2 separate regions of the Homo sapiens genome follow, and region 1 is linked to region 2. Evidence: fine-mapped expression QTL. A gene starts in region 2. The other region holds a variant in brackets. All regions are shown on one strand. Distances are between the middles of the regions. Region 1 overlaps NAA16 (N-alpha-acetyltransferase 16, NatA auxiliary subunit). Region 2 holds the start of NAA16 (N-alpha-acetyltransferase 16, NatA auxiliary subunit).

Region 1 (4,400 bases), 27 kb after region 2:
CAGGGTTTTGAGCTGTAGACTGAGTGTGCTAGTCAGTGAGAGATTAGGAAAGATATTTGATATTGTGCTAAATTCAGAATGGATAGTTGATAACTTTTACTTAAAACTATGACTTTTTGGGTTTATAAATTGGATAGGAGCATAATTGCTTCTGAGGGAGCTTTATTTTTATTTAGAAAATCATTTTAAGAATTGTTTGCGTGAACCAAAGAATAACAAAGTACGCTTTTGTTTCTAGGTGAAAGATTTAGAGAACTAATGGATAAGTTCCTGAGGGTTAACTTCAGTAAAGGCTGCCCACCCTTGTTTACTACTTTGAAATCTTTATATTACAATACAGAAAAGGTAAAATTTGGTATTTATTCAGATTTGCTATAGTCTTTTTTACTAAACTGTAGAAAGATGTCCATGTAAATAATGTGCTATTACTTAATCATTTTCTTTGTTTCAGTAATGTTACCTTACTTTCAGTCATGTACTGAAATTACATGCCTGTAGTATAAGTAATATCAAAGTAAAGGGTTTATGAAAGCACTAAGATTATAAAGGTTGTTTATTTTTAATAGGTATACTTTTTTTTAGTAGGATTTTAAATTTGACATTGTTACCAAAGGTATATATTTATTTTGTGATTATTATTTTATGGTACAGTTATGGATTTTTAAATTAGTTATGCATGCTTTTAAAGTTAGAGCTTGGATAATTGAGTTAGTGCAACAGTAAAATGCAATTTGGTCAAATTACTGGTACAAATTACTAGGTTTAATCAGTAGGCTACATTTTAATAAATACAGGTTTAGCTAGTTCTTGAATAAAGAATTGTCTTTCTGCTTTTTAAAATTAGAAAATAGGCCAGGTGTGGTGGCTCATGCCTGTAATCCTAGCACTTTGGGAGGCTGAGGTAGGCAGATCGCGAGGTCAGGAAATTGAGACTATCCTGGCGAACACGGTGAAACCCCATCTCTAGTAAGAATACAAAAAATTAGCCGGGCGTGGTGGTGGGCGCCTGTAGTCCCAGCTACCCGGAAGCTTGAGGCAGGAGAATGGTGTGAACCTGGGAGGCAGAGCTTGAAGTGAGCCGAGATCGCGCCACTGCACTCCAGCCTGAGTGACAGAGCGAGACTCCGTCTCAAAAAAAAAAAAAAAAATTTCGAAAATAGGCACTTAAATCTTGGTCTTAAATTAGAAAGATAATTAAAAGTTAATAGAAAGCAAGTTATACTTTTATTTCCAAGTGTTGCTTCTTATTAAAGTCTAAAATCTTGTTGTCTTTTCTATAGTCAGTTTTTTAAAGTTACTACTGGATAAGGAAAAGATTTTATTAGAAATGCCAAAAAAATTTTAGTTAAGCTTCTGTCATATTTATTTAGCTTTGATTCATAATAATTTGTAAATTTGCAGTAATTGTGAATAATACAATGTTGGAAACATCAGTTATAGATATAGCTGATTGGCATTTTCCTACCTGTGGCAGCAGGTTTCATAAACAAAAGAAACAACTGATGATATCTAGTACCCAGTTAGAAAAAAACATCATTTATGTTAAAAAAAACAAAAAAACCCAAAAAACCCTTACAATTCCTTAATGTCTGTTGTATGGTCTATTTGACTGCAGTGTTTCTGTTGTCAGTTTTTTGAGAGATAGTGATTGATTTCTGTGTAAACATGTACCCGGTGCCTGCCAATAATTTCTCTAGATTATTTAACATTGGGTAAAATTCTTTTGTTCTTTTTGGTGAGGGTGACAGAGAAGAAAGGTTAGATGAAATGCCAGAAATAAAAAGAAATCTTA[T/C]GTATGTGAATTAGAGTACTTCTTTTATAACAGTATTGCAGCAGCTACTGACTACAGTGGACATTAAAGGATTTGTTTCTCTTAAGCTATCACGGGGCTTTCACAGGGTGTTGTTCATAGGCATAGGCTTTTTACTTTTTAAAAATTCTTCTAATATTGATCCAAAGTTGCCATTACAAAAATGCTAAACTTTTTTTTTGGTATTTTATATAAAGCATGAAAATTATGTTTTTGAATAAGGCACTGAGAATACACTAATTCATACAGGAACCATCTCTTTAGTGTTAATTTTAAAGCAAGCAACAGGAATGCTATATTATTAGAAATGCCAGAACACCAAGTGTGTTTGCAAAATGAATTAAACTGCAGAAAATTGAGCTCCAGTTATCTGAATTTAGTATAGTGAGAAAAAATTTGCAAGTCTAAGAACTGTTTCTCAAATAATTTTGGCCACATGTATCTGTGATTTACTCATGAGACCATTTTATTTATTTTATTTTTTAATATTTATTTTTCAATTAAATTTTGTAAGTTTTGTGTTTGACTTTTTTTGTAGTTTCAAAAAAATTATTTCAATAGATTTTGGGGAGTAGGTGGTGTTTGGTTACACAGATAAGTTCTTTAGTGGTGATTTCTGAGATTTTTGGTACACCCATCGCCTGAGCAGTGTGCACTGCACCCCAGGAAGCCATTTTAAAAACTGCACATTTCTAAGCAGCAGTAAGACCTGTTTTTAGTAGTTAGCTGGATTTTTAACTTTCGAGGAAGGATTTCAAGGAGGTGAAGTATGACAAACAGCTATTGTTTGTAAGTTTCCAAATATTAAAGAGTAATTCATGTTGGTATCATGAAAATGAAATTGTCTTTTGAAGTTAGTTTAGAATGTAGTACAGTTGCAAGAAATGTATTTCTTGTTTTTGTTGTTGTTGTTTGTTTGTTTGTTTGTTTGTTTTTGAGTCAGAGTTTCGCTCTTGTTGCCCAGGCTGGAGTGCAATGGCATAATCTCGCCTCACCGAAACCTCTGCCTCCCAATTCAAGCAAATCTCCTGCCTCAGCCTCCCGAGTAGCTGGGATTACAGGCATGTGCCACCACGCCCGGCTAATTTTGTATTTTTAGTAAAGACGAGGTTTCTCCACGTTGGTCAGGTTGGTCTTGAACTCCTGACCTCAGGTGATCTGCCCACCTCGGCCTCCCAAAGTGCTGGGATTACAGGCGTGAGCCACCGCGCCTGGCCGAAATGTATTTCTTAAATGTCTCCAGCATTTAAATTTTTTTGGCAAACTAGAGTTTGGGTAGAGTGGAAGGCAATGAGTGGTTGTCAGACAAATTCCATAACTTTTTTTTGTTTGTTTGTTTTGTTTTTGTTTTTTTGAGATGGAGTCCCACTCTGTCGCCCAGGCTAGAGTGCAGTGGTGCAATCTCGGCTCACTGCAACCTCCGCCTTCCGGGTTCAAACGATTCTCCTGCCTCAGTCTCCCAAGTAGCTTGGGAATACAGGTGCCTGTCACCATGCCCAGCTAATTTTTTGTATTTTTAGTAGAGACAGGGTTTCATGATGTTGACCAGGGTGGTCTCAAACTCTGGCCTTAAGTGATTCACCCACTTTGGCCTCCTAAAGTGCTGGGATTACAGGTGTGAGCCACTGTGCCCGACTAAGTTGCATAAGGTTTTTAAAAACATAGGTAGGTATTTGAAATGGCACTCATTTTACTTTTGTCAGTGAGGTTTTGGAGAAATCTTTGGTGAAGAAAAGGAGAAATTCTCATTTTCCCAGCTTTCTTTAATGTTGAAATAGAATCTTCTATAAACTCTGATATCAAGGTGTTCTTGTCTTTTATAAATAAGAATAAAATATTACTAAAAATATATTTATATCCCTTTTAAGTTAGATTTTGTTAAAGTTAATATTGTTTTGTTTCTTATTATCCATTATATAGGTGTCCTGTCCATAACAGATAACTTGCTGAGATGATATACATTTGCTTACTTGTTTTGAAAAGTACTTAAAAAAAATTGCCAGTCTTTGAGTGAGGCTTTGGGGTCTCTCCATTTTGTTGATCTTTTCAAAAAACCAGCTCTTGGATTCATTGATTTTTTTGAAGGGTTTTTTGTGTCTGTATTTCCTTCAGTTCTCCTCTGATCTTAGTTAGTTATTGCCTTCTGCTAGCTTTTGAATTTGTTTGCCCTTGCTTCTCTAGTTCTTTTAATTGCGATGTTAAGGTGTCGATTTTAGATCTTTCCTGCTTTTCTTGTGGGTATTTAGTGCTATAAATTTCCCTCTACACACTGCTTTAAATGTGTCCCAGAGATCGTGGTATGTTTTGTCTTTGTTCTCGTTGGTTTCAAAGAACATCTTTATTTCTGCCTTCATTTTGTTATTTACCCAGTAGTCATTCAGGAGCAGGTTGTTCAGTTTCCATATAGTTGTGCGGTTTTGAGTGAGTTTTTTTTTTTTTTTTTTTTTTTTTTTTTTTTTTTTTTTTTTTTCCGAGACGGAGTCTCTCTCATTGCGCCCAGGCTGGAGTGCAGTGGTGCGATCTCGGCTCACTGCAAGCTCCGCCTCCCGGGTTCACGCCATTCTCCTGCCTCAGTCTCCAGATCAGCCGG
Region 2 (4,400 bases):
TCAGCATCCCAAGTAGCTGGGACTACAGGCACTCGCCACTATGCCCAGCTAGTGTGTGTGTGTGTGTGTGTGTGTGTGTGTGTGTGTGTGTGTTTGCCATGTTGCCCCGGCTGGTCTCCAACTCCTGAGCTCAGGGTGATCCGCCTGCCTCAGCCGCCCAAAGTGCTGGGATTACAGGCGTGAGTCACTGCACCTGGCTGTGCATGTGTCTTTACGGTAGAACAATTTATATTCTTTTGGGTATATACCCAGCAATGGGATTGCTGTGGACCCCCAATTTTAATGACAGTACTTTCCCTATTTTAAAGGACTCCTATGATGCTTTAAAATCATGTGTGAAACGTAGGAGATTGAAAGAAAAAAAAAGACTCCTATGATTCTTTCATGTCCAACCAACTTAGGCTAGAAAGAAGGAAAATCAAATAGGCAGGCACTGTGGCTCACACCTGTAATCCCAGCACTTTGGAAGGCCGAGGTGGGCAGATCACCTGAGGTCGGGAGTTTGAGACCAGCCTGACCAACATGGAGAAACCCCGTCTCTACTAAAAATACTAAATTAGCCAGGTGTGGTGGTGCATGCCTGTCATCCCTGCTACTTGGGAGGCTGAGGCAGGAGAATCGCTTGAACCTGGGAGGCGGAGGTTACAGGGAGCTGAGATAGCGCCATTGCATTCCAGCCTCGGCAACAAGAACAAAACATCGTCTCAAAAAAAGGAAAATAAAAAAGGGCAGCCCAGTTCTGATTACAGCCGACTAAATGCAGTTACTCATCAATTACTTTATAGTCTCAGAAATATGCACCCATTAAGATTCAGCACATGTATAAATAAACTTATGTACCTAATGTTTACACACACCTTACTACTAACCCTACACTGAATGTATGGTTTATTCTTGCCACTGTTGTATCTTTCTAGACTCACACATTACCATCAATATGCTGCCTTTTATTTGTTGTAGAGAGTATCCCAGAGTTGGAAGATCCTGAATTTGAAGCCTGTTTCTCCCATTATTATATGGCTTTCAGGAAGGGGAACCATCTGAAGAGAAAGGGTAGGTAGACTCAGAAGACCAGTGGCCTTATAAAACCGTAATTCCGGCCAGGTGTGGTGGCTCACGCCTGTAATCCCAGCACTTTCGGAGGTTGACGCGGGGGCGGATCACGAGGTCAAGAGATCAAGACCATCCTGGCCAACATGGTGAAAGCCTGTCTCTACTAAAAATACAAAATTAGCCGGGTGTGGTGGCGCATGCCTGTAATCCCAGCCACTCGGGAGGCTGAGGCAGGAGAATCCTTTGAACTCAGGAGGCGGAGGTTGCAGTGAGCCCAGATAGCGCCACTGCACTGCAGCCTGGGCGACAAGAGCGATACTCCATCTCAAAACCAACCAACCAAACAAAAACAAAGATTGTAAATGTTTGTTTGGTTTGCCCTGGAAAGAGAAGGCTTCTACTTAGAGTCTGAATCAAGGAGGAAAAGGAAAGAAAACAAGTTCATCTTTCATCAAAAGTCTACTTTGCATCGGACACTTAAATTCCTAAATGGGGAGAAATGCAAAAAACTCTGACTCTTCAGAGTCATAACTAACATTATCTTGCGCCACAAGCTTATCAAGAGTGCAATACAAGTCAGTGTCTTCTCTTTTCTACTTAAAAGAAAATTCTCGTTTTTATTTATTACTTTATTGCAAGGAGAAGCAGACAATAAGTAGGAGTCTTATGAGGCGTTCTGATGCATAGGAGCAATGGTGAATGAGGGTGGTGACTCACCACCCCATGGGACTCCAAGGTTTTGGTGACAGCTCGCCTGAGCCCCAGGGGGTGCCGAGATTGCGGCGAGGAGAGCCGCAGCACAAGGCAAATCCACGCGGTTGGTCCCCGCTACGCCCCCGTAGTCACCCGCAGCCCCTCGCCAAAGGGCGCTCCGCGCATGCGCACAGGATCCGGCTCGGGAGGCGGACCCTGGCTGCCATCTTGCAGTGCGCGGGAACCGCCGCCGCCGCCGCTGGCCAAAAAGCGGAGCCCAGGGGAAGCGTGTCCTGCTCAGACCGCCTTCCTTCTCCATTGCCACCCGTGCCGAACAGCCAGGCTGCCCAATTGCAACTGTAGACCAATGAACTAATCCATCGCCCGCAGCCCGACTCTCAGCAGCGGTTCGTCCCGGTGCCCACCCCCGCGAAGCGGAGCGCCCGGGCACCTAGCCTCCCTGCCGGCCACCTAGCCTCCCTGCCGGCCACGATGCCGAACGTGCTGCTGCCGCCCAAGGAGAGCAACCTCTTCAAACGCATCTTGGTGAGTGGCCGTAGGCCGCGCTGCCGCCCCCCGGTCCCCGGGTCCTCGGGCCTTAAGGGCAAGCGGTCTGGCGGCGGCCGGCGCGGGCCAGGCTTGGCCTCCGCTGCCCACCGCTCTTTGTTTACCTCGGAGGTCGCGGGACCCCACTTTCCCGCTCCGGCCGGCCCACGGGGGCTGCCGAGCCGCTCCTCCGTGCGCTTCCTTTCCGCGGTCTTCTGCGGCTCGCCTCACCCCCGCCGCGCTCTTTCCAGAAACTTCACGCCGCTCTCCGCAGTGCCCGGGCACAGCCGCCTCGGCCGGTAGTGGCTGCCGTGCTCTCTGCCGCGCCGGGCTCGCAGCAGCCCCTCAGGGATCCTCCCCCGGTGGTTTATTTTGCCAGTCTCTCCTCGGCTAGGTGTTTTGCGTTCTGCATTCTCTGCTTTGCGTTTAGTTAGATTGCACAGCACACCCGCATACCTATTAAAGCGGGATCGATGCGATGGTGGAATTTTTCCTGGTTACGAGGAAATAAAACCGGCAACTTTAGGAAGCCAGGCCTGGCACCACCTCCCTTTGGGAAAAAGTTTGCCTGTTTGTAATGTACCTTATTTACCTCTTTGGAAGTGAATATTTGACTTGAAGTGCGTTTCTGAGTTGTCACCAACTTCAAAACAGCTGTTTGCTTTTTAGTCGCACAGGCCTTGCTTGAGTAATTAAAGCCGCGTGGACTGGCTGGTTTTGCATTTGAGGGGAGCATTTTTACTTTATCGCGGAGCAGAAGCCTGAATAATGGCCCCGTAGTGATGACCGCTGCGGAGCCGGGTGGGCAGTTTTCTGTGGGCTGTGTGCCAGCGTCCCTGGTAGCTTTCCAGGTTCTGTTCTTCCAAGGAGAAGAGGCAGCATTCCTTTGCTTTCCTCAGTATCCTCTGGCTACCCTAGGTTTTAAACTAATATTGTTAGTAGGTAACTGTCTTTTCTAGTTTATCTTTTCACCTGAAAAAAAGCTTTTATTTGCTAAACATGCATTTAGGTTTAAAGGTGAATTTATTGAAAGCTGGGTTGGCTATATGGCTGTTAGTTGTTGCTTAACTTTACTATAAATAAAATACTAATTTTAGAGTAATTTTAAGTATGAACAGCGGCAGATAATTCATAGTAGCTGTTCTGTTTCAAGACGATAGAAACTTCACACTTAGTCTTCAGATTAGGATACATAGTAGATGGGATAAAAATTTTAAATATTATGTGGTGCTTAGTTTTGAACCAATAATAAGATACAAATGTGAGAACATTAAAAATACGAATAATTAAAGCACGTGGCAGGTTGCTTCATTGGGCTTTGTATTTTTTTATTTTACTTCTCATGCCCTTTTATTTTACACAGCATGGAATTGGAGAAGTAATTTATTTATTTTTATTTTTAATTTTTTTTTGCCCTGGGAATCTGAAACATTAATGATAATATCATTTATAAATCGCTAGTTGGATTTCAGGACATTTGGCATCATACTTTAAAGATGACAGCACTTCTTTTCTCTTTATACGAGTTTTTTGTAGTTCAAATCATGGATCAGTGTCATAAGGAAAAAGTTACATTATTATTCTTAAATTACAAAAAAGGTAGGGTTTATCCCCAAATAAATTGGGAAATGGTAACCACTAAAAAAAAATCAATTATTTTGAGATGGAAGTCTCGGTTTGTTGGCCAGGCTACTGTCGAATTCCTGGCTTGAAGCGATCTTCCCACCTCAGCCTCCCAAATTGCTGGGATTACAGATGTGAGCTACTGTGCTCAGCCAAGCTAAACATTTTTAAATCTAGGTATGTAATGTTTCTGACAAGGTTGCGTGAATTTAGGAGGATTCTGCATAAACGAATGATTTTATCATTTCACAATTGCAATAAATGTGGGTAAAATTTGGCTACAACAAATTCCATAGCAAACAGAAGTCTCTGTAATAAAATTATCTTTAAAGTTTAGTGGATTAAAGTGCTTTGCCACCAACAGTAAAATTTTTTCTATTGAAAAAATTCAAACACATCCACACAAACTGACCAGCTGGTTTTTTACGTGTTCCACGTGGCTTGTATCTGCATGTCTTATTCCCCAGACTGGATATTAATTAGCA

The links. PIP is the estimated chance that this variant, and not a neighbour inherited with it, causes the effect.
Region 1: its variant is the best candidate, but not a certain one, in a credible set for the expression of NAA16 in whole blood (INTERVAL, PIP 0.56).

Annotation. Positions count from the first base shown.
Region 1 is chr13:41,336,412-41,340,811 of GRCh38, forward strand. NAA16 (N-alpha-acetyltransferase 16, NatA auxiliary subunit) reads left to right here. Exons shown (of 20, transcript NM_024561.5): 9 at 239-345. Among named protein-coding and RNA genes, the nearest start is that of NAA16, 27 kb to the left of the region's middle. The variant T/C (reference allele first, on the strand shown) is at 1,793.
Region 2 is chr13:41,309,291-41,313,690 of GRCh38, forward strand. It overlaps NAA16 (N-alpha-acetyltransferase 16, NatA auxiliary subunit), which reads left to right and starts at 1,977. Exons shown (of 20, transcript NM_024561.5): 1 at 1,977-2,292. The coding sequence starts at 2,239. It also overlaps a transcript of MTRF1 not described here.